4 linked regions of the Homo sapiens genome follow. The protein of the gene in region 2 interacts with the protein of the main gene of each other region in a pairwise test. Each region holds a gene or a part of one and is shown on either strand. Other genes may lie near its edges.

Region 1 (4,321 bases), on a different chromosome or scaffold from region 2:
ACTACGGGCTTGAGTTAAGATGGGTCTTCATCCACTGCTGACCCACCCCATTAAGGGAGAAGAACAGATGGAGATTCAGGACAAGAGTCCCGGCTAGGAATGAAGATGGCCGTTGGCCTGGAACCTTCTCCACTTGAGGAAGCGAGAGGTGCAGGCCTGGATGGAGAGGAGAAATCTGCAAGGCCAGCCATCGAGATGCCTCCCAAAACCCCTACCACATTCATCCGATCACTTTTTCAACCATCTGATCTGCCTCTGGCTGGAAACATGTTAGTCCTGGAGAACGTAAGAAAAAGAATCTTAATTGCTCAATTACGTAATTGTGCTATACTACAAACAATTCTGAATGAATGTCAAGTTTAAATTTTTCCATCACAACTGTCATAATCCTCATTTACATTAATACTGAGTTACTGAATGCCATATATAGAAAGCAGTATGATACACATCACATGGCTTCTAACCACTATAAATTTGCAATTTAAACAGGATTTTGATGGTAAGTTACACTCCCCCCAACAATCTAATGTTCAACTAAATCTGTCTCATATTTCTAAAGTTTCAGTCATTTTCTTCACATCTAGAAGTAAAACGTCCTTATGTTCTCTTGCATTGCTGAAAGTCTCTCAGAAAATCTCCGCAATTCTTCTCACTAGTGATCAAATCCATTCACTCACTAGAAATGGATGGAGCCTTCTCAGTTTTCCACCGCTAGAGCACACAGCTGAGTATATCAAATTTGTCTCCTAAGGACAATTTCCAGTGCAGAGATGTGCCCAAACTCCCTACTGCAGTCAATTCTTTCCATTTCAAAGTAAATTATTTTGTCTCTATATCCAAATACAAACTTAAGGAACTTTATATTTAAACCAACATCCATTGTATTTGAAAAACATAATAAGGCCAGGCACGGTGGCTCACACCTATAATCCCAGCACTTTGGGAGGCCGAGGTAGGCAGATCACCTGAAGTCAGGAGTTCGAGACCAGCCTGGCCAACATGGCAAAAACCCGTCTCTAATAAAAATGAACAAACATTAGCCGGGCGTGGTAATGGGCACCTGTAATCCCAGCTACTCAGGAGGCTGAGGCAAGAGAATCGCCTAAACCAGGGAGGTGCAGTTTGCAGTGAGCAGAAATCCCACCACTGCACTCCAGCCTGGGCAACAGAGTGAGACTCTGTCTCAAAAAACAACCAAAACATATATATTAGAAATAAGTAGTAACTAACCAGCAGTAACTGACCAACACTTTTTGACACCACAGATAAATGAAAAGCAAAGAAAATTTCCTATTTCAAATGGATGACTTCTGTCCATAATTTCTCACCTAAAGAAAGTGAGAAAGTAGCCATTTCTCGAAGTGCCAGAGGCTTAATCCATGATTTCTCACACCAACCCTATGAGAGAGATCTTTACGGCCCATATCTCGCATATCCCACTGCTGACAGGACAGGTCCACTGCGTGGCCGCAGTCTTCCTGCCAGGACTGGGTCACCTTCTCAATTCCTCCACCTCAGCAGTATCATCACTCTTCTCATGACTGAGGTCAAAAATGCTAGAATCCTCTTTGCCTCTAGCCTGTCATTCTTTATGGCCTTTACTTTCTACCTGTCATGACATCCTCTGGCTCTCAGGACGACTGTGTGATCGTCACTTTGCTGCTCTGTGGCTGAGGCTGTGCCCTGTGGCTTTATCCCGCCCACCTGCCTGGACGCGGATGTGCAGGGACCAGGGCCGGCACCCTCAGCATTGGGCGGTGCTGGAGCTGGCTCCTTCTGTGCATCTACCTTTTCCCTAAACTCGGCTGACCCCAGCGCTCTCATGGGCACCCACCTGGACAATCCCTGGCCTTGCAGCTCTTGGACCTCCTCATCTTGGTGGCCTTCTCCCCATTTCCTCAGCCACACATTCCCAACCACCCCCAAGACCCATGGTCAGTGGCAGGCCTGTTTTCCTCCGGGACCCAACAAGGTGACATGGAGCGGTGGGCACTGAAGCAGGCCCAAGAGCTCCTAACGGGCAGCTGCTGTTCAGTTACAAGGCACTGTCACCACCCAGGACTTGAGGAAGGCCAGCTCGGCATTTTATCAGGCATCCACCTCTCAAGCCAGAAACCCAAAGTCTTCCCTATCTATGAATCACCTATTTGAAAATCTTCTATTCTCCTCAAACCCGATGACCTTCTCTCTCTGCTCACCTTCTCCCCCACCATCTTAACTGTCTGCTGTCTAACATCTAAAGGGCATGTTTGCCTCTATCTTACTCTGGATGCCAGCCAACCGCTGTCATCATCCCAAGAACCGTGTACTACTAATACTCGCTGCTTAGGTGGAGGGGAGGGGAGACAAAGATTTTGTCTGTCCCACAGCATTTCTAAACACTACGTAAACCACTGCTATTATCATACCCAATAAAATGATCATTGTCAACATCACCTTATACCTACGCCATACTGAATTTCCCCACTTCATCAACATCAAGCCTTTCCACTGAAAGTGGATGTGGAGAATACTGGATCCGGCTTCAGGTTGTTCCTATATGCTACAGAGCCATTTTTCTGGGACTTTGAGCTGTCATTATGAAATGAAAGTGTCCAGAACAAGGTGAAGCGGCAGACGGGGTGTCACCATCAGATGGAACAGCCCAGCTGGCTCTCAATGGTGCGGCTCCTCAGAGCCTGGCCCCAGACCCTCCTCTTGCTCTGCCCCACCTACTACACATTCTCACATCCGCCTCCACAGCTTCAGTCAGCCTTGTTTTCTCTGGTTCCACCACGTAGCAGACAGCCCCTGCATGGATCAGATACCTCCAACCCAACACATCTGAAAAGAAACTTAGGTTCTTCAAACCTGCAGCTTTCCAGTGTTCCTTATCTCTGAAACAGCATCATCTTCCTTCACTCGCTCAAGCCAGAAAGCTGGATCCTCCCATTCATTTTTTTCTGTCTCAAACTCCAACTCTATGTCCTCTTAAGGGGCCTCTCTGCTTCACTCTTGCCCCTCAAAGATCCACTGTTTACACAGAGTGCATCTCACCCCAACTCAAAAGCCCAGTGGCTTCCTTCCAAGAAAGACCATACTCCTCACTATGGCCCTATATGGCAAGGCCCCTTTTAAATCCTTCCTAGAACTCATTCACCTTATGAAGTTCAAATTTCATTAACTTTCTTTTCTTAGAACTCAGCAAATTCATGCCATTTGGGTCTTCCTTTTGCCTGGGAACTCTGTGCCCTCAGTTCTTCACATGGCCTCTCCTTGTCATTCAACCCTGATCTAAGTCACCTCCTGCCCGAGGTCCTTCTTGACCATCTCGTCTAAAATAGCCTCCTTCCCTTCACCTGCTATTACGGGACCCTGATTATTTTCTTTGAAACACCTTTCACCATCAACAGTCCTTTTGTTCATATTTCTCCACTTACTGTATGTCTTCTCTACCTAAATTAGTTTTCTTAGTCACAATTTTATCTCCAGTGCCCAGAAAAATGCAGAGTGGCCAATATACCACCTCAACTACCTTCTTTCTGTCTTAAATAGAAATATATGTACTTAAAACTTTTAAGGCCATGCGTGGTGGCTCACACCTGTAATCCCAGCATTCTGGGAGGCCGAGGTGGGTGGATCACTAGAGATCAAGAGTTCAAAACCAGGCTGGCCAACATGGTGAAACTCTGTCTCTACTAAAAATACAAAAAAAAAAAAAAAAATTAGCCAGGCATGGTGGCACATGCCTGTGATTCCAGCTACTCGGGAGGCTGAGGCAGGAGAATCATTTGAACCCGGGAGGTGGAGGTTGCAGTGCGCAGAGATCATGCAACTGCACTCCAGCCTGGGCGACAGAGTGAGACTCCATCTCAAAAAAAAAAAAAAAAACAAAAACAAAACAAAAAACAACCAGCAACAAAACTTAAGATCCACTCTGTATCAATAAGCTCCATGCTATATAAACTGTAACCTGAAATCAAGCCTTCCTCAACAAATGCATGAATTTGTGTTATTTATTTACTACCATGAAGTTCATTATAAGCAAATCAGGTACAGCTGGTAAACTTCATTATTCTCTTTGCTGCCATTGCTAATTTTAAACTAAGTAAGAGTGGAAACCCTTCAACGGATAGTACTCCATCACTGACATCCTGGTTCTACTCAGCTGCTTTAAATCTTCAACTTAAAATACGCTGTTACCCTTTTTCAATGACCCTGAAATATACATATATACACATACACACACACACACACACACACACACACACACAAGTAAACAGGTTCTCACACAAATACTGCTTGTAAGTTATTTGGTCTGAAAAAGCAAAACCAATAAACT
Region 2 (4,997 bases):
CCATCTACCAGGTATCCGCCCTTGTCTACAGCGTCAGCTGCCACCCCAGGCCAGGCTCCCGCCATTCCTCCCCTGGGCTCCCCTTCTCTCACTCTAGTGATTGTGGTGAATCAAGTTCTTTTTTGAGACAGGGTCTTGCTCTGTTGCCCAGGCTGGAGTGTGGTGGCACTATCTCGGCTCACTGCAGCCTCTGCCTCCCAGGCTCAAGCGATCTTTCCACCTCAGCCTCCTGAGTAGCTGGGACTCCAGTCACACACCACTATGCCTGGCTAATTAAAAAAACTGTTTTTTTTTTTCAGAGACAGGGTCTCACTATATTGCCCAGGCTGGCCTTGAACTCCTGGGCTCAAGCAATCCTCCTGCCTCGGCCTCCCAAAGTGCTGGGATTACAGGCATGAGGCACTGTGCCTGGCCGTGAATTGAGTTCTGATTCTCTGGCTGAGTCCCCTGGTAGGTTCCCATGGTCCTTACTGCTAGCACAGCTTGAGTGACCTCTGCTTCAGTCCGTTCAGGCTGCTCTAACAAAATCTCTTAGCTTGGGTCATTGATGAACAACAAAAATTTATTGCTCACAGTTCTAGAGGCTGGGAAGTCCAAGATCAAGGTGCCACCAGATCTAGGTCTGGTGAGGGTTTGCTCTCTGCTTCAAAGATGACACCTTGCTGTGTCCTCACATAATATAAGGGGCAAACAAGCCCCTCAGACCTCTTCATATTTTTTTTGAGACAAGGTCTGGCTCTGTTGCCCAGGCTGGAGCGCAGTAGCACTATCTTGGCTCACGGCAAATTCCACCTCCCAGGCTGAAGCCATCCTTTCACCTCAGCCTCCCAAGTAGCTGGGACTACAGTCGTACACCACCACGCCCGGCTAATTTTTGTATTTCTTGTAGAAATGGGGTTCCACCATGTTGCCCAGGCTGGTCTCAAACTCGTGAGCTCAAGCGATCCACCCACCTTAGCCTCCCAAAGTACTGGGATTGCAAGCATGAGCCACCATGCCTGGCCCCCTCAGACCTTTGTTTGTTTGTTTTTTTTTTGAGATGGAGTCTCGCTCTGTCGCCAGGCTGGAGTGCTGTGGCGCCATCTCAGCTCACTGCAACTCTGACTCCCGGGTTCAAGCGATTCTCCTGCCTCAGCCTCCCAAGTAGCTGGGATTACAGGCATGCACCACCAGGCCCAGCTAATTTTTGTATTTTTAGTAGAAACGGGGTTTTACCATGTTGGCCAGGCTGGTCTTGATCTCCTGACCTCATGATCTGCCCACCTCGGCCTCCCAAAGTGCTGGGATTACACGCGTGAGCCACTGTGCCCGGCCAAGACCTTTTTTATAAGGGGACTAATCTCATTCATGAAGGCAGAGCCCTTATGATCTAAGTGCCTCTCCTCTCAAAGGCCTGACCTCTTAATCCTATTGCATTGTAGATAGATTGCAACATATGAATTTCAGGGGGCCATAAACATTCAGACCATAGCACCCTCCCATCCTTCTCCCAACACTTGCTACATTCTAGGCATCTTCCTTATTTTCTGTGCCAATTCTCACCACAGGGCTTTGCGTTCTCTGTTCCTTCTGCCAGGAACACTGTTCCCCATGGACTTCATGTTATTCCGGTCTCAGCTCCACTGTTCCTAATCAGGATGCCCTTCCTGACCTCCCTGGCCAAGGCACCACCCCTTCACCGTGCTTGGCTTGGTTCCTCATTCACCATGACTCAGTCTCCCTCCTGTCTCCCAAGGCTGAGCACAGGATTTGGTGCAAAGCTGACACTTGGCAGTGGTTTGTTGAATGACTGAGTGGAGTAACACCCTCAACTCAGTGTCCTGGGAGCCCCCACTCATGCCAGATCACACAAGGGATCCAAAGAGAGCCCCTCACAGCACTTGTCATGTGGTCCTGGACAGATAACAGTTTCCTTAAGAGCCAGTGGTTCTGAGATGGAGAAGCCCGGGGTGCTGTGGGAGCCGAGTGGGCAGGTGGGGCTTCCTGGGGGAGGTAAGGAGAGCAGAGGACGCTGGGCAGAGGGAGCAGTGTGTACCAGGAAATGCGGTGCAGTGAGTGGGGGCACCTGATTAAAGAGCTTGATCTCAAACCTCTTGGTTGGTGGGGAGAGCTATGCCGGGGGTGGGGGGGCAGAGATTTAAGAAGAAGGAATCGGGTTGGAATCATGTTTCTGGAAGAATCTGCAATTGGAAACGTGTCTCCTGGCAGCCGTGTGGATGCTGTTGGATGGGGAGAGGGGCTAGGGGACCAGGGTCGTGGGTCCAGGTGAGAGATGGCTTGAGACCAGCAGCAGAATGTGGGGGGGAGGGTTGTTTTTAGTTCATTTCTTCATTTTGCAAAGCAATGCACTAAAAAGCCAAACAGCATGTAAAAGCACACAGTGACGAGTCCTCTGCTTCTACCCAGGCCCCGTGCGCTGCCCCTGACGCCGCCCGTCTCCCTCCCCAGAGGTGACTATTTCCATGTCTCCTTCCAGAGAGGTTCTATACATTTGCAAGCAGATCTCTCTCTCTCTCTCTCTTTTTTTTTTTGGCATCTGTATCCTTTGTATTTAAATATCCTTCTCCCCCGTCTTATGGAGTAAAATACAGCCAGGCACAGTGGCTCATGCCTGTAATCCCAGCACTTTGGGAGGCTGAGGCAGATGGATTGCTTGAGCCCAGGAGTTCGAGACCAGCCTGGGCAACATGGCAAGACCCCATCTCTACCAAAAAAATACGAAAATTAGCTGGGAGTGGTGGTGCACACCTGTAGCCCCAGCTACTCAGGAGGCTGAGGCAGGAGGGTGGCTTGAACTCAGGAAGTCAAGTCTGTAGTGAGCCGTGATCATACCACTGCACACCAGACTGGGTGACAGAGCAAGATCCTGTCTGTTTAAAAAAAAGAAGTTCTTTAGCCAGGCATGGTGGCTTACGCCTGTAATCCCAGCACTTTGGAAGGCCGAGGCAGGCAGATCACCAGAGGTTGGGAGTTCGAGACCAGCCTGACCAACATGGAGAAACCTCGTCTCTACTAAAAATACAAAAAGAATTATCCAGGCATGGTGGTGCATGCCTGTAATCCTAGCTACTTGCGAGGGTGAGGCAGGAGAATCACTTGAACCCAGGAGGTGGAGGTTGCAGTGAGCCGAGATCGCGCCATTGCACTCCAGCCTGGGCAACAAGAGCGAAACTCCATCTCAAAAAAAAAAAAGTTTCTTTAGTAGCAGGGCATTATATACATGTACCTTGCCTTTTACAAATTTCATTTAATACAACTAGAAGTCACTGATCCATCTCAAATTTTTTTGTTGTTTTTTTGAGACAGAGCCTTGCTCTGTCGCCCATGCTGGAGTGCAGTGGCACAATCTCGGCTCACTACAACCTCCTCCTCCCAGGTTCAAGCAATTCTTGTGCCTCAGCCTCCCATGTAGCAGGGACTACAGGCGTGTGCCACCACGCCTGGCTAATTTTTGTATTTCTAGTAGAGACGGGGTTTCACCATGTTGGCCAGGCTGGTCTTGAACTCCTGGCCTCAAGTGATCCACCACCCTCGGCCTCCCAAAGTGCTGGGATTACAGGCATGAGCCACTGCGCCCGGCCTGCTCATCTCAATTTTTTTTAACTTGAAAGGATGAATGATATATGTTCTAATAGCTGTCCACTGTTTTGTTTCAAAAGCAAGTGCATTTTGTTAAAAAAAAAAAAACTTTGTCAGCGGGGCGCAGTGGCTTATGCCTGTAATCCCAATGCTTTGGGAGGCTGAGGCAGGTGGATCACCTGAGGTTGGGAGTTTGAGACCAGCCTGACCAACATGGAGAAACCCTGTCTCTACTAAAAATACAGACATTAGCCAGACGTGGTGGTGCATGCCTGTAATCCCAGCTACTCGGGAGGCTGAGGCAGCAGAATCACTTGAACCCAGGAGGTGGAGGTTGCGGTGAGCTGAGATCAAGCCCCATTGCACTCCAGCCTAGGCAACAAGAGCGAAACTCTGTCCCAAAAAAAAAAAAAAAAAATTGTCTAGTGTTTTTGAATTATGTTCAAGGTATAAAATTTTAAAAGATAAAAAAGGTATTCCTTCCCACCCTGTCCTCCACAGAGGTGAAAGCTATCATTTGCTTCTAGTGTCTCCTTCCTGGGATATTCTGTATATGTGAAGTTATTTTTCTTTTTTTAATTCACAAGCACTGAGCACTTATTATTTGCCAGGGACTGTGCTACATATTTTACAACCACCCAAAGTTAGGTTCATGCCCATAATCCTAGTGCTTTGGGAGGCCAAGGCAGGCGGATCACCTGAGGCCAGGAATTTGAGACCAGCCAGGCCAACATAGCAAAACCCTATCTCTACTAAAAATACAAAAAATTAGCCGGGCATGGTGGCAGGCGCCTGTAGTCCCAGCTACTTGGGAGGCCGACGCAGGAGAATCGCTTGAACCCAGGAGGCGGAGGCTATAGTGAGCCGAGATCATGCCATTGCACTCCAGCCTGGGTAATGAGCAAAACTCCATTTCAAAAATTAAAAAAATAAAATTAGCCAGGCATAGTGGTGTGCACCTGTAGACCCAGCTACTTGGGAGACTGAGGTAGGAAGATCACTTGAGCCCAGGAGTTCAAGGCTACAGTGAGCTATGATCATGCCACCATTCTCCAGCATGGATGACAGAGAGGGAGACCCCCATCCCTAAAAAAAAAAAAAAAATCGGAATTAAGTGCTGTTATCATCCCTATTGTGCATCTGGAGAAACTGAGGCACACAGGTACAGTGACTTGGCCAAGGTCACACAGCTTGTGACAGAGCCAGGATTTTGACAAAGGTGGGCTGGTTCTAGGGTAGTTCCCTCAGGGTGAGCATCCTAAAGATTGGTGGTTATTGCCAAATGGGACAGAGGGAGGAGGGGACAGGTTGGAGGGCCGTGTACCAGATCCAGGAGAGGTGTCCTGAATTCCCTGGTATCCCCCTTTCTGTTTCTCTGTCCCCAGTTCCTCTGTAGGGGATTGGGGGTTACAAGATTA
Region 3 (4,321 bases), on a different chromosome or scaffold from region 2:
GCCGTCCCTGAAGCAGGTTTCTCCCAGCAGGAGCCGAGGGTGCGCCTGCGCTCCGGGGCCCAGGTGGGCGAGGGCCGGGTGGAAGTGCTCATGAACCGCCAGTGGGGCACGGTCTGTGACCACAGGTGGAACCTCATCTCTGCCAGTGTCGTGTGTCGTCAGCTGGGCTTTGGCTCTGCTCGGGAGGCCCTCTTTGGGGCCCGGCTGGGCCAAGGTGAGTGAGACAGCCTGGGAGGGGTTAGAAGGCCTGGATATGCCACTGGTCCATGTCTTGAAGGCCCTGGGGTGACAGGGCCAGGACAGAAAGTTATCCCCCTCTGTGAAGGGGAAGCCACAAGTGTGGGGTTACGGAGATGGAGCCTCGCACACAGCACCTCTCTCCCCATCTAGGGCTAGGGCCCATCCACCTGAGTGAGGTGCGCTGCAGGGGATATGAGCGGACCCTCAGCGACTGCCCTGCCCTGGAAGGGTCCCAGAATGGTTGCCAACATGAGAATGATGCTGCTGTCAGGTGCAATGTCCCTAACATGGGCTTTCAGAATCAGGTGAGTTTGGGTCTGAGCATGGCCTCAGGCTGGGGGCCGGGAAACCCTGGGGAGTCCCCAGGACACCACATCGAGCTAGCGGGGAGAGGTCCAGGAGGAGCGGCTAGCGCTTCTGCTTTGGGCACCAGTCTGCCTTCCCTTAGAGCCGACCTGGCTGCAGCCCCTCCGAAATGTCAGAGGCCACAGGGGCTCTGCAGATGGATGTGCTCTCCCATACCCGTCTCGGGTCCCCTGTGAAGCTGAGAAAGAAGGTGCCTGGGAAAGAGGGCCACAGGGCTGTCGGCACGAGGGAGTCTGTGTGGGATGCTCAGGGCAAAGTGTCAGTGCTAACATGGACTGTGAGCAAGTCACTGGTGCCACTGTAAAATGGGGTTCACGCTCTCAGGGGGTCACTGTGAATGAGGCAAGGGACATGAAAGCCCTTTGCAAATTGCCAGTTGTCGTTAATGGTGGAGGGCAAGTGCCAGAGCAGGAGGAGCCCCTGGTCCAGGCACTTTGAGTCAGATTTCTCTAGCAGGCAGGGACATTAGAGACTACCTGCTACACTGTCCTCACCTTACAGAGAAGGAGACCAAGGCAGAGAAGGGGACTGTCTTGTCTAGGGTGACACAGTGAGCTGGCTTGGGCAGACCTCCAGGCTCGCAGCCCTGAGCTCTTCCCTGCAAGGCTACCCCACTCCTCACACACCCCTCGCCATTGCAGGTGCGCTTGGCTGGTGGGCGTATCCCTGAGGAGGGGCTATTGGAGGTGCAGGTGGAGGTGAACGGGGTCCCACGCTGGGGGAGCGTGTGCAGTGAAAACTGGGGGCTCACCGAAGCCATGGTGGCCTGCCGACAGCTCGGCCTGGGTTTTGCCATCCATGCCTACAAGGTAGGTCCCTCTGTTGTTTCTTCCGTATGACCTCTCACCCTCCTGTTCTGAGGCCCAAAACTTCCTGTGCTAAAGCTGCTGCCTCTTTGCCCATTTGGCAATTCATTACTGAGTGAAACTATGAGCCGACATGATGCTGAGTGCTGGGAACAGTGTGGTAAACAAGAAGACATAGTCCTAATGAAATCGTCAATGAGGGACACATTTGCATCTGCAGGAAAGATGAATAGAAATTAGTCAGACAAGGTGGAGGAGGAATGAATAGCTTATGCAAAAGCCCTGTGGCCAGAGAAAGCTTGATTCAGCTGAGGAAATCAGGGCCAGGGATTGTAGTGTGGCTCTCTCTCGAGAGTGCTGTCAAACATGAGGGCAGAGGAGGCAGGGGCAAGATCACTCAAAGCTTGCAATCCACATGTTTGAAAGATTTCTTCCTTTGCTGTTTGGAAAACGTTGGGTGGAGATTAACATGAATGCAAGGAAACACACTCAGGAGGCTATTGTAGTAGCCCAGGTGAGAAATGAGGCTGGACTGGACCAGGTAGTCCAGGAGAAATAAGTGGATAGATCTAAAATACATCAAAAAATAAAATCAAGAGGACTTAGGCATGACCGCAACAGAGAAACCTCTGCACTTGCACCCACACTGGCTGCCGCACAGTGTGGACTGGGCAACCCTGAGCACAACTGACGATCTGGGCCGCTTGAGGAGCAGCTGGGGAAATGTGAGCACAGCCCCCAGGGAGAGGGGCGGGGAACAGGACCCTCCTCTGCCATCTGGAAGAGAGAGGGGTGTAGGGCCAGTAGTGGAAGCCACGGTGGGTGGATTTTTACCTCCATATGTGGTGGGGATTTCTAACATCAGAAGGGTCCAAATGTGTCATGGACTGCCCCAGGGAATTCGGGTTCTCATCACTGAAGATTTTCAGGCCCAGGCTGGACACAACCCGGTGGGGGTGGTATGACTGAGGCCACACCTCAGATGGGAGTCAGGAGGTGACTCCAAAGGCACGCTGACTGGGTGACGCTGGCTGTCTTCTTAGGAAACCTGGTTCTGGTCGGGGACGCCAAGGGCCCAGGAGGTGGTGATGAGTGGGGTGCGCTGCTCAGGCACAGAGCTGGCCCTGCAGCAGTGCCAGAGGCACGGGCCGGTGCACTGCTCCCACGGTGGCGGGCGCTTCCTGGCTGGAGTCTCCTGCATGGACAGTGAGTGACGGAGGGCTCACAGGGCTGGGGACAGGTAGGCCTGTGCTCCCCTTCAGGGAGGGCCCTGCATGCTGGTCCCAGGTCTATGGCCAGCAGCATGGGGGAATGAAAGTACCAGCTCTGCCATTTCCCAGCTGTGTGGCCAAATCACCCATCCCATCAGGATCCATACCCTGCCCCCTCACGGAGTTATTGTGAGAAAGAACACTGAGAACATGAGGAAGCACAAGGACACGGAACGGCGGTTTTCAACTTTGGGTTATGACCAACAGTTACAAACAATGAAACAGGACAGAAAACAGCAAGGGCAGTTTTTCCTTGGAACTATGTGTATACTGGGTTACAGCATAAAATGTATTTCTTACTGTGGTTTGTAGTCAGAAAAGCAGTTTGAAAGCTGTCGTAGAGGACATACAAATATGAGCACACCCGGGGCCAAGGCCCAGCTGTGTGTTCTCTTCCTGAGCTGTGGGATTTACCCAAAAAGACTTTGGGACAAGGCCATCTGTGGCATTGCTCTGCCCCACAAACCCAGATTCTTAGGGCAGCAGCATCTCTGACATCTCCCAGCCAGGTCAGTGCCAAGATGGACTATATCCAGCCCAAAGGTTACAGATAGCATCAACCCAAGTGGCCACTTGACCTTGTTCGTGGCCAAATTTCGACACCAAGATATCCTTCATCTTTGTCAGTGAGCTCCTGGCTTCCTCTCTGTCCAGGGCACCCTGGGGAGAACACTGGGCCCATCCATCAGACCCTCCCCTGCAGGGATGGGGCATGAGAGTGGACCTCCCCATCACCAAGGCCTCCCAGCACGTGGGGAGCCTGCTCCTCACTTGACTCCCCTTCCTGGGAACCTCGAACCCCTCCCTGCTCCACTGCCTACAGTGGGAGCGCTCTTCTTGAACACATTTGATCCTTCACGACAACTTGGCACAGTCAGCCAATCTGCAGTCTCTGTAACCACCTGTTTTTCCTCCCTGGCTTTTCACATTGCTTTCTTTCCTTTACTCTCTCTTCTCATTCTCTCTGAAAGCTCGCCTTCTTTCACCAAGAAACTCTAGGTTTGTCAGTGGGCACTTCCTGGCTCTCTCCAATATATACCACAGGACCCTACATGGCCAACTGCCAGATGCAGATGGCTCCAGCCTGGGGCAAGCTGCGGCCGGCCTGCCCAGGTGGCATGCATGCTGTGGTCAGTGGTGTGGCAGGGCCTCACTTCCGCCCAGGACTACTTTAGTGATAGTGATTTTTAGTGACAGTACAGGCAAAGTATCCAGGTTAGGTATCAGCAGAGCTTTTTGAGAGGATTATATGAACTAAGCTACATAAAGGCACTTTACAGGCTTAAAAGCATTTTACAAAATAAATACTAGCTTCAACTGCATGTTTACTTAGGCCAGACATGTTACAGGTGTCATCAGATTAATATCACCATTATCTTCATCTTACAGATGATGAAAATGAGAGACAAAATGGTTAAGCAGTTATAGAGCTAGTGAATTATACAGTCAGAAAGTAAGCCAAGAATGAACCCAGGTGGCCTGGCTCCAAAACCAGCAAGCCTAACCATGACACTGTAGCTGCCTCCCAGGTTAAGGTGATAGACTTCCTTTAAATGTTATTAGAACTCACCATCTCCTGACTCTTAAAACTGCCCTTCTTTTGTGGGGTCCTCTCGGAGGGTTTAATCTGGGGGCAAG
Region 4 (4,321 bases), on a different chromosome or scaffold from region 2:
TATGATAGTTTCATTAGTCATGGGGAAAAAGTGGTTTGTTAGGAAGAATGATAGAAAATAAATATGATGGGGGCAAAAGGGGATTTATGGCTTGAGAGAGCCAGGAGTTTCACTGTGGACACTGGCAAGGTAGCCTTAGGAAAGCTCTTTTTCCTTCATTCCTATGCCTGAGTTTTCTGATTTGTAAGGCAGGGAGTGCCTACTACAGTACCATGCACATCCATTTTAGGTAGTCTATTAATACTAGATGGTAGCATGGAGCGATAGATGAGAGGCAGTTATTTTGCCTCTCAGGTTCATGGGAAAAAAAATAGTTATTTGTAATAAATTTTACAAGGCTTAGGAAAATACCTTTCTTATAAGTTTGATTTTAGGTATTTATATGCTAAAACTCACTTGTTGCTGTCTCTGAAAGAAGCTTGTAACTCATTCTTCATTCACTTAATAAATATTTAATGAGCATATGCCAGCTACTGTGTTAGGTGCTGTGGATGCTAATATAAATAAGATGTTCTCCGCTTCCTCAAATCTCATTCATTTTAAAGGAGGAGTTAGATATACAAATGGATAATTACAAGACAATGTGATAAGTGTGACAATAGATGCATATGTGGATTACAATTACGTCACTGCAATTTGACTTAAGTATAATATTGATGGCTCATAAAAATTTTTTTTAGAATAAGTAATGCATGCATCTAGTATAAAAATCAGAAGGCACATAGGGTAAACAGAGAAAAGTAATTCAGACTCCCTGCTACCCCTATCTCCTGGCCATTCAGTTTCCTTCCTCAGAGGCAGCCAGGATTACAGTGTATAGCCTATACATAAAAATAGCAGTTAATTAAAATGAAAACCAATTTTAATGTTTGTGTTTTGAATACGAATAATTTCACAAAGTAAAAAAATTCAAAAGGGCCCGGGCACAGTGGCTCATGCCTGTAATCCCAGCACTTTGGGAGGCCGAGGTAGGAGGATCACCTGAGGTCAGGAGATCAAGACCAGCCTGGCCAACATGGTGAAACCCTCTCTCTACTAAAAATACAAAAATTAGCCAGGAGTGGTGGCACACACCTGTAATCCCAGCTACTTGGGAGGCTGAGGCATGAGAATTGCTTGAATGCGGGACTTGGAGGTTGCAGTGAGCCGAGACTGTGCCACTGCACTCCAGCCTGGGCAACAGAGTGAGACTCTGTCTCAAAAAAAAAAAAAAAAAAAAATTTTTTTTCAAAAGGAAATGAAGGGGTACAGAGTAAATTGCAACTTGTTTGTCTCTGGAAAGAAGATGGGCATTTGGCCTAATCTAACCCAGGAGATGACAGTGTTAATCCTTGTACTTCATACTAGCTGCTGTAACAACCCTTAAATCTAAGTGGTTTAATACAATTGGATTGTATTTCTTTTTTATCATATTTTTTTTGGGACAGAGTCTCCCTCTGTCACCCAGGATAGAATGTGCAGTGGTGCGATCTTGGCTCACTGCAACCTCTGCCTCCAAGGTTCAAGCCATCCTCCCACCTCAGCCTCCGAAGTATCTAGGATTACAGACGTGCACCACCATGCCTGGCTAATTTTTGTATTTTTAGTAGAGACGGGGTTTAACCATGTTGGCCAGGCTGGTCTCGAACTCCTGACCTCAAGTGATCTGCCCACCTCGGCCTCTCAGAGTGCTGGGTTTACAGGTGTGAGCCACCACGCCTGGCCAGGAGTGTATTTCTTGATTACATCTCAGACTCATGCCAGATAGGCAGCTCTCCTAGATACCACATCACTCATGTAGTTACAAGGTATCCGAGGTTCTTCCATGGTGTGGCTCTGCTATTTCCCAGCCCTTCTTTCCTAGCTGCACAGACTGGAGAATGTGAATTAAGGATTGTGGGAGATTTTAGTTGCCAGCAGTGGAAGTGTTGTACATACATAATTTTGTCATTATTTCATTGGCCCAAACTAGTTATCTTCCCTCTCCTAGTTGCTGGGAAGGCTGAGAAATGTATTCTTTCTGTGCCCTGGAAGAGGAATAGGATTTGTGAACATCAAGCTATTTATTCTCTGCCATAGTCTTCTGGTTCCTTAAACTTGACTCTAACCTTAGTATCTCTTCTCTTTCACTGTAGGTAGTATACCTGGCCAGTGAGACCTTCAACTATAGTGCCATTGACCGAGTGAAGTCCAGGGGCAAGCGGCTTGCACTAGAGAAAGTGCCAAAAGTTGGACAGCGGTTTAACCGCATCGGGCTACCACCAAAGGTATAGACGCACCTCTGGCTTATCAAGGGTCATGATTTATAGTGACATAGTCATCCAAGTGGTGAAGCAAGGTGCCTACAACTCAAATATGGGCACGTGAATAACCTGCCCTGAGGATCCTGTCTTCCTTATTTCTGTCAAGTGGCTAAGGTTTGAAAAGTTGAGACCTAACTTTTCACTTTACTCCTCTGGTTCATTTGGATAGGTTCTTTAATTTGGATGGATGATCACTGTTACATCTCTTTTCTCCTGTACTTGCAAGAAATGAGGAAGTAAAGATCTTGAAAAGTTTTCCTTCTCTGATACAAACTCCATAGGGCCTTAATGGGTATCTGGCATATACTCCAAAGGTCTTTGGATTTGGGCAGTAGGGAAAAACCTTTGTTCCTTCCTCTTGGTTCCAGGTTGGTTCATTCCAGCTCTTTGTTGAAGGCTACAAAGATGCAGACTATTGGCTGCGGCGTTTTGAAGCAGAACCTCTTCCTGAGAACACTAACCGGCAACTACTGCTCCAGTTTGAGCGGTTGGTGGTGCTGGATTACATCATCCGCAACACTGGTGAGCAGCTGCAGGTGGTCCCATGCCCTGTGCCAGACTGTGTTGAGGCATGGGGAGGCCTGGAGGCTTGCAGGGCTTGGGAGTCAGAGTACCTTGTCCAGACACATCATGTGTAGTTTTCAGAAGTGGTGAGGCCTGGAGTTAGTATTTGCATTTTATCTTACACTCTTTCCTGGTTCCAGACAGAAGACACTTAACTCTTCCAAAGCACTGTGAAGAGTACTCTTATCCTTGATCCCTAGTCATTCTTGTAGCCTCAAGACCTGTAACAGGACAGTTTTGTCTTCCTCTGACTTCTTGAGGTAGATGTTTAGATCATTGATATTTAAAAAAAATTTTTTTTCAGTGCAATTTAAATTCAACTAACCTGGTAAAATGTACATGTATTGAGGACAAAAGTCTTTAAATTCAGGCTGGATGTGGTGGCTCATGCGTGTACTCCCAGCACTTTGGGAGGCCAAGGTGGACAGATCATTTGAGGCCGGGAGTTCCAGACCAGCCTGGACAACATGGTGAAACCCTGTCTCTACTAAAAATACAAAAATTAGCCGGGTGTGGTGGCGGGCACCTGTAGTCCCAGCTATTCAGGAGGCTGAGGTGGGAGAATCGCTTGAACCTGGGAGGCGGAGGTTGCAGTGAGTCAGAATTGCACCACTGCACTCTAACCTGGGTGACAGAGCAAGACTCTGTTTCCAAAAAAAAAAAAAAGTCTCTAAAGTCACCTTATTGGAGCTATATTTTGTCCGATATTTTAATCATAGTAAAATGCATGTAACATAAAATTTATTATCTTAACCATTTTAAAGTAGTATGAAATACATTCATATTGTTGTGCAACTGTCACCACCATCCATCTCCAGAGCTCTTTTTGTTGTTGTTGAGACCGAGTCTTGCTCTGTCACCTAGGCTGGAGTGCAATGGTGCGATCTCAGCTCACTGCAACCCCTGCCTCCTGGGTTCAAGTGATTTTCTCACCTCAGCCTTCTGAGTAGCTGGGATTACAGACACCCGCCATCATGCATGGCTAATTTTTGTGTTTTTATAGAGATGGGGTTTCACCATGTTGGCCAGGCTGGTCTTGAACTGACCTCAGGTGATCCACCCATCTCAGTGTCCCAAAGTGCTGGGATTACAGGTGTGAGCCACCATGCCTGGCCTCCAGAACTCTTTTCATCTTGTAAAACTGAAGCTCTATACTCATTAAACAGTAACTCTTCATTCCCCCTCCCTACGTCCCTGGCAACAATCATTCTGTTTTCTGTTTCTATGATTTTGACTACTCTAAGTACCTCATGTAAGTGGAATAGTACAGTATTTGTCTTTTGGTGATTCGCTTATTCACTTAGCATAACGTTCTCAAGGTACATCTATGATGTAGTATATATCAGAATTTCCTTCCTTTTTAAGGATAAATACTGATCCATTTTATGTATATACCACATTTTGTCTATCCATTTATCTTTCAGTGAACACTTGGGTTGCTTCTGCATTTTAGCTATTACGAACAATGCTACTAT

Evidence for each region. Proteins that work in one complex are often made in the same cells at the same time.
Region 1: the proteins of ECSIT (region 2) and PAXIP1 interact in a two-hybrid assay, tested with the Homo sapiens proteins (one study listed by BioGRID and IntAct).
Region 3: the proteins of ECSIT (region 2) and LOXL4 interact in a two-hybrid assay, tested with the Homo sapiens proteins (one study listed by BioGRID and IntAct).
Region 4: the proteins of ECSIT (region 2) and PI4K2A interact in a two-hybrid assay, tested with the Homo sapiens proteins (one study listed by BioGRID).

What each region holds. Positions count from the first base shown.
Region 1 is NC_000007.14:154,971,304-154,975,624, forward strand, and holds part of PAXIP1 (PAX-interacting protein 1), read right to left. Parts: intron 3,603-4,321; exon of another isoform or gene 1-3,602.
Region 2 is NC_000019.10:11,508,070-11,513,066, reverse strand, and holds part of ECSIT (evolutionarily conserved signaling intermediate in Toll pathway, mitochondrial isoform 1 precursor), read left to right. Parts: coding exon 1-11; intron 12-4,997.
Region 3 is NC_000010.11:98,253,874-98,258,194, reverse strand, and holds part of LOXL4 (lysyl oxidase homolog 4 precursor), read left to right. Parts: intron 1-27; coding exon of another isoform or gene 28-30; coding exon 31-214; intron 215-390; coding exon 391-545; intron 546-1,247; coding exon 1,248-1,415; intron 1,416-2,455; coding exon 2,456-2,618; intron 2,619-4,321. UniProt on the Homo sapiens protein: Catalyzes the oxidative deamination of lysine and hydroxylysine residues in collagen and elastin, resulting in the formation of covalent cross-linkages, and the stabilization of collagen and elastin fibers.
Region 4 is NC_000010.11:97,654,171-97,658,491, forward strand, and holds part of PI4K2A (phosphatidylinositol 4-kinase type 2-alpha), read left to right. Parts: intron 1-2,114; coding exon 2,115-2,246; intron 2,247-2,650; coding exon 2,651-2,804; intron 2,805-4,321. UniProt on the Homo sapiens protein: Membrane-bound phosphatidylinositol-4 kinase (PI4-kinase) that catalyzes the phosphorylation of phosphatidylinositol (PI) to phosphatidylinositol 4-phosphate (PI4P), a lipid that plays important roles in endocytosis, Golgi function, protein sorting and membrane trafficking and is required for prolonged survival of neurons.